2 separate regions of the Homo sapiens genome follow, and region 2 is linked to region 1. Evidence: fine-mapped expression QTL. Tissue or cell type: whole blood. Region 1 holds a variant in brackets; the other region holds the start of a gene. All regions are shown on one strand. Distances are between the middles of the regions.

Region 1 (8,108 bases):
GGGGATGGGAGGAGGGGCTGAGAGTGCTCTCTAAGTTAAGGTCACGGTGTAGAGGAGAGGACTTGAAAACTTCCTGCAGCAGCTTCGTGGCCCGGTGAAATGTTCTCAGCAGCAAGCATGAAGCTCTGATTTGTAAAAAAATCAATACGGCTTGCATGCCAACTATGCCTTCTCCAATCCTGCATTTGTGATGTCAGAGGTTGTCATTCTGGGCTATGGAGCAAACCTTTCAGGGTTGACCCAGTCCTTCTAGGTCATGTGGAGTGGGCCAGCTTTAATGAACCTGTCTAAAAGGAAGGAAGAGAAAGAGCTCAGCTCCTTAGGGGAACAAGGTGGACCTTGGCAGCTGTCTCACTCCTCACCAGCTCTTCACCTCAGATCTTGTCCTGACTTCCTGGTCCACTAACGGCCTCCTGGATAGAAGAGTCAGGTAATGATCCCTGCCTTTCAATACTCATTGCTCAGTTTCAACAATCATCAACAATTTGCCAATCTCATTTCATCTCTCCTCTTATCTTTTTCCTTTTCTGGAGTATTCAGATCCTCTCACTTTCTGAGTGGAACTAAGAGTCTTCCTCACCTTCATCACCACTATTAGCTTATAAACCTCTTTTAAGGACAGGGATTCACCTCAGCTCAATTATGTTTTGTTACACACGTGGTACCCATCTTCTGTGTTGAGAGATGTTTGAATTATACAGTTTTTAGTGCATTAAGTGTTAGTGTTTGGGATCCAATTTGGCTCACTCTAGATGAGCTATAGAGTCTTCATTTTTTCTCCTCTCCCTTTTTCCTTCTTGAGTTAAAAATCACAGTTACCCAGCCTCCCCATACCTCCCCCCGCACCCTATATTACCACTTGTTTTTCTTTCTTTTTTCTAACCACACCCTGAGGCATTTCACCAGCAACTCTTTATTATCTAACCACAGTTCACCAGCCCAGGAGATGTTCTGAAAATTGACAATGATCATGATATACCCTGGATCCAGAATACTTCTCTATACAATGGGTGTGTATAAAGACAGACAGACCTGCCAGGCTCCATCAGGAAAGCTCTGTGTCTCCTTCACATGTGGAGGGACAGAATATTATCTGGAGATGGAGAATGCTTCTGAGAGCCTCTAGCACAGGGATCCCCAACCCCACAGCCTCGGGCAGGTCCCAGTCCCAGTCTGTGGCCTGTTAGGAACCGGGCCACACAACCGGGGGTGAGCGGTGGGCAAGTGAGCGTTACCACGTGAGCTCTGCCTCCTGTCGGATCAGCCGGTAGCATAAGAGTCTCATAGAAGCGTGAACTCTATTGTGAATTGCGCAAGTGAGGGCTCTAGGTTGGGTGCTTCTTATGAGAATCTAATGCCTGAGGATGAGGCAAAACAGTTTCATTCCAAAATCATCCCCCGGACCCCATCTGTGGAAAAATTGTCTTCCATGAAACCCGTCCCTAATGCCAAAAAATTTGGAGACCACTGCTCTAGTAGGCCTGCCTACTGGGCTTACTTTGTGTATATGAAATTGATAATTATTCCTCGTTTCAGAAATTTAAAATGTTACATTTATATTTCTTTCATATTTCCAACATTGTACCAAAGGTCAGTCCTAGAATGCTTTGTTTTAGCTGTTTTTCTTTCCTTAGGCAGAGAACAAAGATTGGTGGCTTCCTCCTGAGCACACTGGGATGTGGCATTACATCGGGGCTGCTGAGTGCCCTTACCTTCAGCTGCCCAGATGCAGAGGCAGGTGGGTGGGGCCAGGGAGTTTGATGCTTCACCTCCTTAAGTGAGAACTGCATCATGCAAACAGTCAGCTCTCAGCCAGATGGCACCACAAGGTTCTGTGAATTTCTCTCAGCACAACAAGCACATCTGCCAGTTGGGTTCCAATGCTGTTTTCTCTTTTCTTCTCGGCACTAGACACCAGGGCTTTAATTACACAGCCAAACTCAGCCGCAGAACACTCCCCAGTCTCGTCCTGGCTGGGCCCAGGACCTCCCCACCTCTTCAAAAGCCCCAAAATGGAACGATCATGGCCGGTCATCAGGGCCGGCAGGTGCAAAGGTGCTAAGTGGGCTGAGCTGACCCTGTACTCCTCTTGGTTCTCTCTGTAATGATCCCCTCTTCCTCACAGGCCCCCTTTGCCCTGATCTCGCCCTCCCACCTGCTGTCGGAGGGCCCCTCATGGAGATGCTCAGCCAGGCCCAGACCTCAGCGCTCCCTTGGCCTGGCCTTTCCACTGGGCTTCCTCGTGTCCTTAGTGCCCGGGTCCCCAGGGGAAGGCTTGGCCAGAGAGCTGCTTGGAAGCAACAGTTATTACGTAGACAATTGACAGAAATCTGTGTGGTTGTGCGGCCACACTCCTTTGTCAATCCTGCCCAGATATCCTGCTTTCCTCATAACAGCCAGCATTTTTCTGAGTGCTCACTATGTGCCAGGCACTTTACTGTATTAACTCATTTAATCCTACAACAACCTTATGAGGTAGGTGCTGCTGTTAATCACATTTTACAGATGAGAAAACTGAGGCACAGAGAGGTTCAGCCCCTTGCCCCAAATCACCCAGCTAGTAATGAGCAGAGGTGGGATTCATATCTAGGATTCTAGCCTGACTCAAGAGCCAAAAGGCTTTTAAAAGAAAACCTGAAACTACGTACAATTCCATATGACATGGAAAAAATTAAATAAAGTTCTTGGCTCAAAGGGTGGCATTGTGATGCTTTCCTTTTCCCTTTTCATCTTCTCATTTCCACTCTTAAAAAAATTATTTTTCTCACACAGTGACTGTGACAAGAGTAAATATGATAGTGGAGGTTCAGATAATGTGAAAAACCAGTGGAGGAGACAATTTTAGGTGGCTTTGCTGTGTCCTCTTCACCTGACAGAGGTGGGCACCCTTAGGTCTGGTTTATGATCTTGGCCAAGCCTCAAAAAGGGAAGACCAAAACTCCTAGAAGCACCCCGTGGTTATAGAGTTGTTAGGGAAATGCGGTATGCAAAGCCTCTGAAAGGAAAGGATCCAAGCTTAGGGATGTGAGGATCTACTAAAATTGTAAGGGACACATGAATAAGAGGGAGATTGATCTGTGACGATGAGTTGGCAAAAAATGAAAATATGCACAAACTCCCCACCATGGAGGAGGCCTCGTGTGCGGGAAAAGGCATTGTTTCTGCCCTTTGGATGTGTTGAAGGATGCTCTAGAATAGGGAAAGTCATTAAAAACTAAATCACAGAGGAGCATGTGACACAGGGCATAGTGCAAGGGGAGTTTAGAGAGGGTATCAGGCAAATCAGCGAGGTGTAAGGGCAGAAGGATGAAGCTGTGGCTTTGAGAGAGGACTTGGAGGCTGAGGAGAGCTCAGATGTCACCAGGCAAGACCTTAGTCCCAACCCACATGGTCGTTGCCTCCACTGTCCTTCCAAGATGCTCCAGCCAGGGCCCATGTCCATGCTCCCTGGATCTCTTGCCTCCAGCTACAGTACCTGCCATGCAGCTGGTGCTCAAGATACTTTTGTTTTAAAATATCAGTGAATAAATGAATAAGCACAGCCGTTGAGTTTTTAACCATTAGGTCAGTCAGGTGTATGAAATTTGAAGAGCCACTTACACGTCTTGATTGAATTCCCCTTTGTCTTGCCAGTTTCTCCCTTTTCCTTTACTGCACCTTTCAGATTTCTCAGCGTAGCCTTCATTCATAGTGTCACTCACAGTGGGATACGTCAGGCTGCATCCACTGTGTTATTCGGTGTGTCACCAGTGCCTTGACTAGGACACAGATAGCCTTGAAAGAGTGGTTACCTTCACTAATAAGCATTATGCAATGTCTTCACTGCCTTCTCTTGGCTCTTTTGGTCTCCATCCTGAATCCTACTGATGTGATCTTTGGTGATGGCGCTGGGTGAAGGTGGTGCTGACAGTAAGATGTGCACAGGCTCACCTCTAGCTCAGCCTCTACCTCACTCTGGAACCCCAAGCTCATCCCCCACTATACGATGGGGGTGGCAGGACTTGCCCTGGATCCCCGACAGGGTTATCACCAGAGAGACAGTTGGGAAAGCTCATTGAAAAGTTACTGTTCTGGCTAGGCGTGGTGGCTCACGCCTGTAATGCCAGCACTTTGGGAGGCCGAGGTAGGCGGATCACCTGAGGTCAGGAGTTTGAGACCAGCCTTCCCAATGTAGTGAAACCCCATCTCTACTAAAAATACAAAAACTTGCCAGGTGTGGTGGTGCATGCCTGTAATCTCAGCTACTCAGAAAGCTGAGGCAGGAGAATCACTTGAACCCAGGAGGTGGAGGTTGCAGTGAGCTGAAATCGCACCACTGCCCTCCAGCATGGGCTACAAGAGCGAAACTCTGACACACACACACACACACACACACACACACACACACACACACACGAAAACAAAAGAAAAGTTACTGTTCTATTAAATGTACTCTCTCTAATGAATGAAATCTTCCTGCATATAATGATTTGAGCCTTCTCCATAACTCTTCACTCCTTTTTACACCAATTTTTGTTTTAATGGGAAGAAAAAAAACCCTATGCACTATTTCCTCCCCTACCTTTTCTAGTTAGGATTAAACAGAAGAAAAATGGTGGCACCATTCCCAGAGGTCTTCAGCATTTGAACTTTACACTAGAAAACTCTCAAT[C/T]CAAAGCTAAAATTCATATGTAACCAATGTCCTTAAGCTAACAGCTGCTTGCACATTCAAAAAAGCTTTGTATTTCTCTCTTCATGTCACTGTTAACTCTCTATTTCTCTTTAGCTATTTATCAGCCTCTGAGAAAATCTCCCGGCAACTCCTCCCCACATAAAACTATTCTAAATCCATGTGAAGCCCTTAATTTAATCAACACATTACCATTTCCTAACAAAGGGTAAATGAGATCAACTAAATTTACACCAGGAAGAAAGGAAATTAATTTTACTCAATTATAAAAAGGAGGAGGCTTTACACAGGTAACAATTTAACAATTGTAGTAGTGGGGATTATGGAAAACTCTGAATCAGGATGCCAGGAGGTCACCCACTGCTGATAGGTTTCAAAATAACTCCCCAAATCCTGACAGTAACAATTTAGTGAAGGCCCAAGAGCCGAGATAGTCCTTAAGTAATGAAAAATGATGACAGCCTAAAAAGAGGGAATTGCATAATAATCAGAATTTAGATTTGAGACACTGATAAGTCACCTGTAAATAATCCGCAGAGCTTGCCTTTTAGCTACTTCTAAGGCTTGCAGACAATGCATTGTTTAAGCTATGTTCAGAAGACACCCAGCACCTTATTTTCTAGAACCAGATTTTTCTGTGGGTAGAAGGGAAGAAATCCAGGATTTATGGCAGATGTACAGTAAAATATAAACTAAGATGATTAAAACAAAATGGACCCTGGACAGTAATGCTAACTGGCACACTAAGATCAATGGATGTGGATTCATATAAGCTGTCTAGAGACCAGCTGGTAAAAATAGGGGGAATGGTTAGAAATTATAACCCACTCCAAGCTGGAAAACATGCCAACCGTATTGTGTTATTCTGGGGCACAAATTATAATTCTACAACACATTAAAGAGAAAATTGTATGGGAAGCTAGAAGTCATTTTCTTATGCTTCCCGCTCATAGGGAGCCACATGCCATTTGGATTACTGCACTTTTCAAAGTACATGGAAAGACTTGAGACAATCCAGAGAAGAATGACACAAACAAAAGGGCAGGACTCATGATGGAAAAGAGGCCCCATGAGGAAAGGCTAAAGAGTCAGAACTACTGAAGCTAAAGAGGAAAACTCAAGTAACGAAACATTATTGCTTTCAAATATGTGACAGGTATTTGGCTAGAAGTTATCACTGATACGTTTCCAGAACACATGGAGGCCAAGGCAGACAAAAGTAAAGATGGAAACCAGACCAGTAAATAAGTCCTTTGATGAACTTCTGAGTCTCTACAGATGAAGGCAAAGCTCCCTCACAGTTGCAGGCAACGTCTCATCTTTTGTCACTTCTGGCATGACACTGCACAGCCACAGCCAGTACGGTATCTCTGCCTTTGCCCATGTCCTGCCTTCTTTCTCCCTGGTCGGTATCTCCTCACCTCAACCAGCTTGGCCAGCTCCTTGGTCATTGGGGTTGCACCCACCCAGGCATGTGCCTGGCTCCGCACAACCTCAGAAGCTCTCAGTACAGTGCAGGACCAGAGGTTGAAACCAATGAAAGGTTGTTAAATAAAGAGAAAATGTTTAATGCTGAGAACAAAGACTAGGAAAGAGATGTCTAATAAGAAATTTTACAGTGAAATACCATGTGTTGTGCTCTGTAACTTCGTCTCCATCTCCCTAACATAGTGTTTAGTGAAATCTACAGTGCTCACTCATGCTTTGTGGAGTCTGGGGGTGAAAGCTTGTAGATATCCAACATTTGCATAACACTAGAAAGTCCACTTTGCCCTCTCCGAGAAAATCTAGTGATCCTGCTGTTTATATCTGATTCAGATCCCTCAATAAGAGTTCTCTTGGTCTCATTTTCATACTGATCCTAAGAAGCATTCACTAACTAGGCTGTACCTACCTAGTACAGCTCTGTCCATATGGTAGATCTGCAATAGATTCTTGGGATCTTATGGTAATTAGATAGCACGCCTATTCTGGAATAGTGGCAATTTGGTTATTCTCTTACACTGACCAAGCATGTGTTAGCTCACTGATGCCCATCTATGTAGGTATTTAGATGCATTGTCCTGGGAGACACCCAGCTTCCTGGGAAGATGGGGATGGAGAGTCTCCTGAAGTATCCTGAAGTTCTTCACTGTCTCCCTTGACAGGGATCCTGGGTAAACTTCATGAAGACCTACAGGGAACTGGCAGCTGGCCTGTTCTGCTATGAGAGAACTCTCTCGATAAGCCCTATTATTTTCCTGAAACCATGTTACATTATAAGAGGCTGGAAGGGATGGTGAGAAATCATTTATTCCATGGTTCTCTGGGCAGAACAGCACTCACCCATCGCAGAAGCCTCCACATCCTCTCATTATGTCTTATCTTTTTATTTGTTTCCAAGCCACATTCATCTCCAAAGCAAACCTTTGTTATGTTTACTTGAGAACACCACAGTTTCCCATTGCATCTCTCACCCCCTTGTCAAAACTATGCAAATTAAGAATAACCCCAATCTGGTTGAGATTGTTTGTAACTGAAAAGTAATTGGGTTATAATATGCTAATTCTTATGCTAATATTTGGCTCCAAAGATAAAGAGACCTGAAATGCTAATGTGAGAGTCCTCCCACAAAGAGGATTACAAGCAGGAAGTTTGCAGAAGAAAGGAGGGGACCCGAATGGAGCAAGGACTAGAAACACAGGCCCTTTAGAAATCATTGGGGGGTTTCGTTGGTTTGTTTCTTTATACTTTCTTTTATTTTGCAAATTTTCTATGATTACTATGTGTTACCGTAACACTTAGCAGGAAAAATAACGTAATGTCTAAAGAGAAAAAAGAATGAGGAACTTTCTCGGAGCAGAAGTAGATGAAGGAAAGGCCGAGGCTGGCCTTACCAGAGCCTCTCCCAGGAAACGGTCAGGCACTGACCTGAGCCGGCTTCCCAAGACAGGAAGAGTTGGTTTCAGGGAAAATCCATGTCTGGGATCCAGGGAAGTTGATGAGTCAGCTTTCAGGTGGGTGAGAGAACAGTGGCTCCAACCTGGGCCTCAGGACCACTGGGACTGAGAGGAAAGGGAAATAATATCTTCAAACCTGGTGGAAGAGGTCAATGTGAGCGTATTAGAACCATACCCTGTCGATGTTTCTCCATTCATTTCTTCAAGGAATATTCTACAAATATCTGTTACCCTCTTTGTACAGTACACTCTGCTAGTCTCTGTGGGTACTGGGAAGATGAATAAAGAGGAACGAAGATGCTTCCCCAGTCTGAAGAGCAGGGGCTTTCTCTGTGAGCCTGTGAAGGAGGCGGTGCAGGCATCAACCTGCTGAGGCCTTCACACCCCTCCTTCTGGCTGACCAGGAGCATTCAGCGATGAAGGAGGGAGAGGGTGCCCTTGGCTGGTGGTCGGTGCCTTGAGAAGTGCTGGAGAAGAGCTGGGCCCTCACTTGGGAAATC
Region 2 (8,108 bases), 90 kb before region 1:
TGTTTTGAATCACAAAATTGCTTTGCCATTATTCTCACACTGTCAATTTCTCTCTTAAAGTTTTCAATGTAATAGATAAAGTATAATTTTAGTCCAAAGCTCTAAATAGTAGCCTAAATGTTGTATACAATACTCTTATAAAAACAAGAATGTATTTCTTGATAACTTTACCAATCCAGAAAACAAAATTACCATTGCTTGCCCAGTCTTAGGCCTTATTACTAACACAGGCAGTAAATATTTTCTTGCAAAAAACCTACAGTGGTTAACATAAGTCACACTGCAACTATAAACAATGAATATAGCCGCATCATGAACTATGATCTTGGCTGCAACATAAATAAATAAATACATCATTTAAATACAATATATTATAATGATATTCTGTTGAGATATTTTCAGATTTTTTCACAAATAAGTTACTACACTAAGATGTTATTAAATCTAGTTCAAACTCAATCACTCTTAGCAAAGAAAAACCAACATTTCAAGTAAATACACTTGTAATATTTATAGGACATATATATTGCAGAATGTAGTAAAAGTACCAACTACAAATTATGTTTTAAAGGGTACAGCAAATCCATTCACTACGGGTGCCACTCCCTCATCCAAAAAATTGACATTTGGATCATTAAAAATGAGACTCCTTATGCTAAACACAAAAATTTACTGGATGTTCAAAAATAAATTTTAAATGGGAGTTCTACCTACAAAACAAAAACCAAAGCTAAAAAATCTATTTTAAAGTGAGTCATAATCACGGCCATAAAAAGACTTTACCAAAAACATCAATTGATTTAGCAATTATTGTAGCTCGAGAATAAATTATCTCTATTGGAAACATGATAGGGGTTAACTTCACCACTCCATCCCATCTCCCCAACAGGATTTTCCTATACAACTGACAAGCACCATTAACATATAAAAGATTGACTTCAATAGAAATGACACCACCACCAAAAAGTAAAAAAGTGTAACATTTGTTTCAGCACAGTTGACAGCACATACTGTCAACTAGGAGAAAGCTTAACATTTTACTGCATCTAGCAAAAATGTATTTAACAGTACATATCCTGATCAATTTAGAGTTATGCTGCAAGGGATATATGTCATTAGCTTTGCTGTGGGAGTGGTGAGAGGAGCTCTTCAAGGTTTGGAGCGGTAAATTGTTGTCATGAATGTAAACTAAAATCAATTGTCAATTCATGGTATTAAGAGTTTAATAATCATGAAGCATTTAATCGACAACTTCTAACCAGTATTTGTCATGTTATATTTCAAAAAGTTGAGAATTCTAGGCACATAGCAAATGATAGACTTCTTAAGCAAAAATGCAAAGTTAAGTAATAAACGAACGTTTAAAAGACTTTCACAAAGAGAAAATCTTAACCTCTAACCAGTTGAACAGTAGAAAACAAGACATAAAAAAATACTCAGAACAATCAAACCTGTGCTGTACGTTAGTACCCACTCTGAAATAGCATCATCAGGGCATTATATATTTATTACATAATATTGCTTTGCCCTTGCATATCACCTTTAATCAAAGGATCTCAAAGCACCACAGAATCAAGGCCTTAACATCCAGTCTCAAACAGATAAACTGTTATATTTTATAATTGCAGATATTAATAAAACCCTGCTCCTACTTCCCAGTCCTCTGATCCTAACATCAGCCTCCAAACCCTCTCTCTGACTTGGAAACAGTATTTCCCAAATCATCTCAATCTGTGACTGATGCCACGCACATTCCAGCTTTTCTTCACTGGACCTAAAGGAAGTAGCGGCACTGTTTTAATAACACATCTATTTCATTCCAACGTCTGTGAGAGAATAGACGGTACTTAAGGTTAACCTATTTTGCACTGTGCTTGATGATATAAAATGGAGGCTTTCGAGAGAGCAAATCTTTGCTCGAGGCGATGAACCCACAGATCACTCATCAAACAAGGGAAATAGCATTTCCCAGCTCTGTCTAGAGACCGCTCCCGGCAACTTCAAGAGCAGTATGGAGGAAAGCTTGTCCAGCCGTACTTAACCAGGCAGGAGGCTATTTCATGTGTGCACACCAGAAGAGAAGCGAAAACTAAAAGGACAACGCACGAGTTTTAGGACTCAGGAAGGAGACTGTAAAGCTGTTATGTGGCCACCCCCAGAGACAGAACACTGTGTTTCCTTTGCATTCAATGGGAAATTAAACAAGAGCAAAATTCCTTTAAACCAAGGTCAAAATAAGCCATTTAGAATCATTTAATTTTTGTTATAAAATCTGTATATGAGGTTTGCTCCTCTAGAAACATCTGGCGTTTTAAAATTTAATCATCAGCAGGCTGGGCGCAGTGGCTCACGCCTGTAATCCCAGCACTTTGGGAGGCCAAGATGGGTGGATCATCTGAGGTCAGGAGTTTGAGACCAGCCTGGCCAACATGGTGAAACCCTGTCTCCACAAAAAAAAAAAAAAAAAAAAAAAAAAATTAGCCAGGTGTGGTGGTGGGCACCTGTAATCCCAGTTACTTGGGAGGCTGAGGCAGGAGAATCGCTTGAACCCAGGAGGCAGAGGTTGCAGTGAGCCGAGATCGCGCCATTGCACTCCAGCCTGGGCAACAAGAGCAAAACTCCGTCTCAAAAAATAAAAATTAAATTAAAATTAAATTAAAATTAAAAAATAAAATAAAATTTAATCATCAGCAAAGTTCAATTTGTTTCCACTGAATACACAAACACTCAAATGTTAACATATGTGAGCACAACTACGTTAACTTCAATTCTTTCATAAACAGGATTATTCCTCTTCCTGGTAATTAAATGCATTATGTTTGTCCTTAGGACTGCAAAATGTAACTTCACACTCACACAAGCCCAGCCCCAGCACTGTAAGGTTACACGGTTACTGTTAGTCAACCGACTCACAACCTTACCCTTTATAAACAAAACAAAGAAAGGCGTCAATAAACAACAGTACTTTTTGTTTCAAGTTCTCAACACTCAGTGATCGAGGCTCAATACTATGTTTCCTTAGCTTTATGTCTAATATGGAATCTACTATTAATAAATATCTGGCATTAAAAAGCCCTGGAATATTCATTGTAAGTACCAATACAGGGTCAGCCTACGTTTCTGAAAATCCCAAAATATCTTTATATTTCTGTTGCCATCCGTATTCAGACATTTCAAAAACCTCACAGCAAATTCTAACATACTTTTTCTTGAAGAGATGTGCATCCCTGTTCTTGAAAAATATCAAGTTCGTCCCTACTGCAATGACGATCTCGTCTGTGTCATAAAGCAAGATTCCCGTTTCCCTACCTATTCTCTCGTAGGGACACCCGTCCTCAGCTCTGCCCACTGTCCCTGACGTTTTCAGAAACGTTAAAATACTAGTGTTCGGAGGCTTCTAGCGAAGAGGGAGATGTTTTGTCCCCTCAAGCTACCATGATACATTTCCCTACTTCTCCACTATCTTCAATGCTTTAGAAAACACGACCAAATGAGAGAACCCATATTAAAAGCAGTACTTCCTAAAAGGGGGAAACCAGAAGCTCCAACTTCTCCAAATCGCTCAGCACAGTGGCTTTTCGACAGTCCCCAGCAAATCTTCGCCCCACGCCTGCCGTCTTTCCGATTAAATAAGATTGGAAACCACAATTAAATCAGTGTCATAACTTATCCGTCACTTACCATATCCGCCGGGACATTACTGGACATCTTGCCGTTTGATATACACCCAGATGTTTACGAAAAAAACAAACAAAGAAAAAAGAGCAGAAGTCTTCACGTTACAGAAATAAACCACGATTTTGACTGGTTCGTGATGTGCTTTCTCCCCCAAAAATAAAGTTATTTTGGAGCCAAAGTGCCGGTCAGGCCGAGGTTCTGGTTCGAAGAGGAACAATCCCCAGGAGCTGTGTGGCCGGAGCAGGAGGAAACTCCCGGGACAGCAGAGGCAGCCCCCGTCGTCGTCGTCGTCGTCAACAGCAGCAGCAGCCCCAGGACCGGCCGCGCCAGGTGGACCGAGCCGAGTGACACACGGACATGGAGAGGGGTGGGAGGGGGTTAAATGCGCCTTCCTCCTTTCCCAGCCCCGGCAATGATTCACACTTGCTCCCGAGTCAAGTCCTCATTAAGCAGGAGAAAAATGCCCCAGCGTGGATGTACACAGATAACTATGTAGCTACACATCGACGCGTGAGCCTTGAGTGGCGGCCGAGCGGTGGCCGGACGCTGGCCGCGGACCCTGCAGAGCCGCTGTCGGAGCGCCCGCGCGGACAGCGCGGGGAAACGGCTCAACTCGCGCCGCGGGGGCGAAGAGCCGGGCCGCGGAAACCCGCGCTCAAGGGCATTTAACTAGTTGGAAGCCAAAGCGAAAGACCGGAGCGGGGGACCGACAGCGCGGGGGTGCTCGGGGCCGGCCGGGACACTCCACAGCCCCTCTGGGCTCAGGCCGCGGGCGCCTCCGGACAGCAGCTGGGGTCGGGGCGCATCGTCTCCGGCTCCTCGCCACTCCTCTTCTGCCTCCGCCTTCCCCGCCGCCGCCTCCCCGGTCTCCGCCTTCCCTTCCCCTCCCCTCCCCGGCCTCGCGAGCTCCGGGCGACGCCGACTTCGGCTGGTCCCCGGAAGAGGCCGGGTCCTCCTTCTCCTCAGCCCGGGAATGGTTTCCTCTCAGAGCTTTGTTTCTCCTCCTCCTCCTTCACTTTTCAGTCCCACACGCCGCGGCCGCCTCCTGTCATCGCCTCTCAAACCAACATGGCGGCAGCGGCGGCGGCGGCGGCTGCCTGAGTGCGACTAAGGGAAACGGGGAGAGCACGGGCCCCCCCTCGCAGCAGCCGCCGCCCCCGTCCTCGTCCTCCCTCCGCGGACACCAAGTGCGTCACCACGGAGACCATTCCCTCGAGCATCACGGGAAGTGTAGTCTACGAGGGTGGGGGGGGGAGGGAGCCGCCGAACGCCTCCTCACCCAGCTCCGAAGCCACGCCCCCCATAGCAACAGTTGCGAGGAAAGGAAAGCTCCCTTTCCCTTGCTTTGGACAAGCTGCTGCCCAGGAGTTAAGTGATACCTGCTACCAGGAGTGCTGTGATCATGAGAATTGTTGGGAGAAAATAATTCTGCATAGAGAAATTCCCTTATGCACGATATGCACACAGAGCTAAAATATGCTGTACCTCCAAGCAGAATCATTCATTTTAATTACAGCACATTCTCCACATCCTGCAATCTCAATGCATTTTGTAGAGTGATTTCATCTAGGTCTCCTCAACATTACATTTTGAAGAACAAAAGCAATCATTGATTTCCAATAAGGTCACATAAGTTCAACAGGAACAAGGATCTCATTAAGCAGTGAGAATATTTGAACATGTGTTTCCTTGAAGACCCAGGGCAATAAAGCTACAATCTACTTAACTGAAATTACCAAAACTGTATTACATACAACAGTGTTATTATATCAAATCTGTATCAGGAAATAGCTACTACAAACTTCATGGGGATTCACCAGTTTACCCATCTGGACCCTAAATTCTATTCTATGTAACTCATAATGTAATTGAAAACCTATATGCCTTGCAGTGATTAGCAAATAGGAGAAAATAATGCCATTGTTGAGACACCATTCAGATGGACATTTGTGATTTCTGCATTTTGTTCCTAAATCTGAGGTCAACATCTGAATCCCTATTCATATCTCTTAGTCCTTTGACAGAGTACTTTAGAAAGGGCAGTCTCAATATGATGCCTATATATAAATGCCAATGAATTTAGAGTCTGAAAGCCACCTCTCCAACCTACAGCTGTGTGACCTCATCTGTAAAATGGTCTTGCCTACCTTCCGGGGTAAAGTAGGGGTAGTTATGAGGATGAGTTCATGCATGGGAAATAAATCACTTTGTAAATAATAATGCATCATTTGATATGAAATGTCACTACTCATTCTCTCATTCAGCAAACAAATGTGCCAGGCACTCTGCTAGGCACTAGGAGTTTAAAAATGAGTCACTGTAGCGAACAGCAGCATCATGTGGCAGAAATGCCAAGGTCTTGGGTTGGCAATGGGGGTTATTACATCCTTGTCTATAGGGCTGTTGAAAAGAGGCAGAATCCAGTCACTGTCCTCAGGGAGCTCATTGTCTAGAAGCCTACGTGATTCCCCACAGCAATCTCTCCAGTTGGGTTTCTCATCAGTTGGAAACCCACAGGACATTTAGAGTACCTGCCTCTTGAGTAGCCTGGGTGGAGAAATTCCAAACACTCCTAAGGGCCTATATCACCCTGAGGAAGATAGATCAAATTCTCCGAAAAACCAAAGGCCAGAAGAGAAGAGAGGCCCAAATCTCACTGTGATTAGGCTTCAGGACTTTGTCTAGATATTTCCAAGTCCATAGTTACGTGATTTTCCATGGCCTTTGTTACTTGGTTGCTCATTTGCAATGTTTAGCAACCACAGAGTCCCCCTACCCCTACACCAGCCCCCCAGGAAATAAGGGCAGGTGAAAATACTTCAATTGACCAATGAGCTCAGAAGGAATATTGGAGCACATTTTGAAAGCTCTAACTCACAGAGTTAGTCCCTCCACCATACCCTTGACTCCAACTTTTATCCAATGACCTCCCTGGCCATGGCACTGCCTGGCCATGGCACTGCCGGGCCTAAGTGCCACTGTAAGTAGAAAGGCAAGAGTTGCTGTTTGCTGCAGGTTACCACTGCCACCTTTACAAAAGGCAATGTCTTTCAAAAGTCGCTGTGTTTCCAATTACTCTTCTAAGAGGGGCTGAGACATTATTCTCAATAAAACTCATTATAACTCATCCCTAACATTGTTAAGGCATGAGGTAACATTATTGGACACAGTTGCAGATTTTTCCACTCTTTCTTTTCTCTTTGCTTCCCAGCTCAGGCGGGTGAGGTGGGAGGCTGTAGAAAGGAGTTCAGCTGTCCCAAGCAGGAAAAGGTAGCATCTTCTTGACACCAGGAATCTATTGTCAGCATCAGTTGGAAGAAAGTGAATGACACAGCATTTTTGTAATGGGAAAAATAACTTCATAGGAAGTCAAAAGACCTGGCTCTGCCACGAATTAGTTATGTGACCTTTTGCCTCTCTGAGTTTCAATTTCTTCATCTGAGAAGCTTGAACTAAATCTCTAAGGTCCCTTCTAAGAGTCTATGAGTGTCAAGTCCTGGAAAAATAGGGCATGACACCGATGGCCTGTTAAAAATATCTTCCCTAAGTGACTACTTATGGGTAGGAGGGATTTTGGGGGAACAGGGAAGGTGGAATGATGACAACCTAAAATTAGATTTTGGCGATGGTTGTAGAACTCTGTAAATACACAGGAAACCACTGGATTGTACACTTTAAATGAGTAATTTTTTATTTGTTAAAATGTAGCAAAATACACATAACATAAAATTTAACATCTTAGTCTTTTTTACATTTTCAGTTCAGTGGCATTAAGTACGTTCACACTGTGCAACCACCACCACCATCCATTCACAGAACTCTTTTCATCTTGCTCCCTGAACTCATTAAGCACCAACTCCCCTTTCTGTCTCTCCCAAACACCATTCTACTTTCTGTTTCTATGTTTTTTTACTACTCTGAGTACTTCATATGAATAGAATCATATGGTATTTGTCTTTTTGTGGCTAGCTTATTTCACTTAGAAAAATGTCTTCAAGATTTATCCATATTATAACATGTCAGGATTTCCTTCCCTTGTATGGCTGATTAATTTTCCATTGTATGTATATACCACATTTTATGTATTCATTTATCCATGGATAGACACGTCAATTGTTTCTACCATAGAGCTATTGAGAAATGAGTGGATTTTATAATATGTAAACTATATCTCATACATTTGTTAACAAATATATCTCCCCCATCTACCATGTAAGTGTCTAAAATGGCTCCCATCTTAAGATCATTCCTGAAGGATCTTCTCAAGGAACCTCATGAAGTTAAAATAACTAAATGGAAGAATTACTTTCTGTGAAACCAGTAAACTTTTATCATGTGGTTCTTTAGTTGATTATCTCATGATGCCATGCTCTGTCATTTACAAAGGATCAGAGAGTAGGAAAATGCCATAAGAAGCAGAGACAGCCTTT

The links. PIP is the estimated chance that this variant, and not a neighbour inherited with it, causes the effect.
Region 2: UBL3 starts here. The variant in region 1 is fine-mapped to the expression of UBL3 in whole blood (INTERVAL, PIP 0.94).

Annotation. Positions count from the first base shown.
Region 1 is chr13:29,936,272-29,944,379 of GRCh38, forward strand. LINC00544 (long intergenic non-protein coding RNA 544) reads left to right here and starts at 260. Exons shown (of 5, transcript NR_033889.1): 1 at 260-430; 2 at 931-1,010; 3 at 1,635-1,738. The variant C/T (reference allele first, on the strand shown) is at 4,652.
Region 2 is chr13:29,845,831-29,853,938 of GRCh38, forward strand. UBL3 (ubiquitin like 3) reads right to left here and starts at 4,787. Exons shown (of 5, transcript NM_007106.4): 1 at 3,682-4,787. The coding sequence starts at 3,708. RefSeq lists enhancers at 3,353-3,422, 3,893-3,962, 4,633-4,702 and silencers at 4,263-4,562, 4,833-4,942.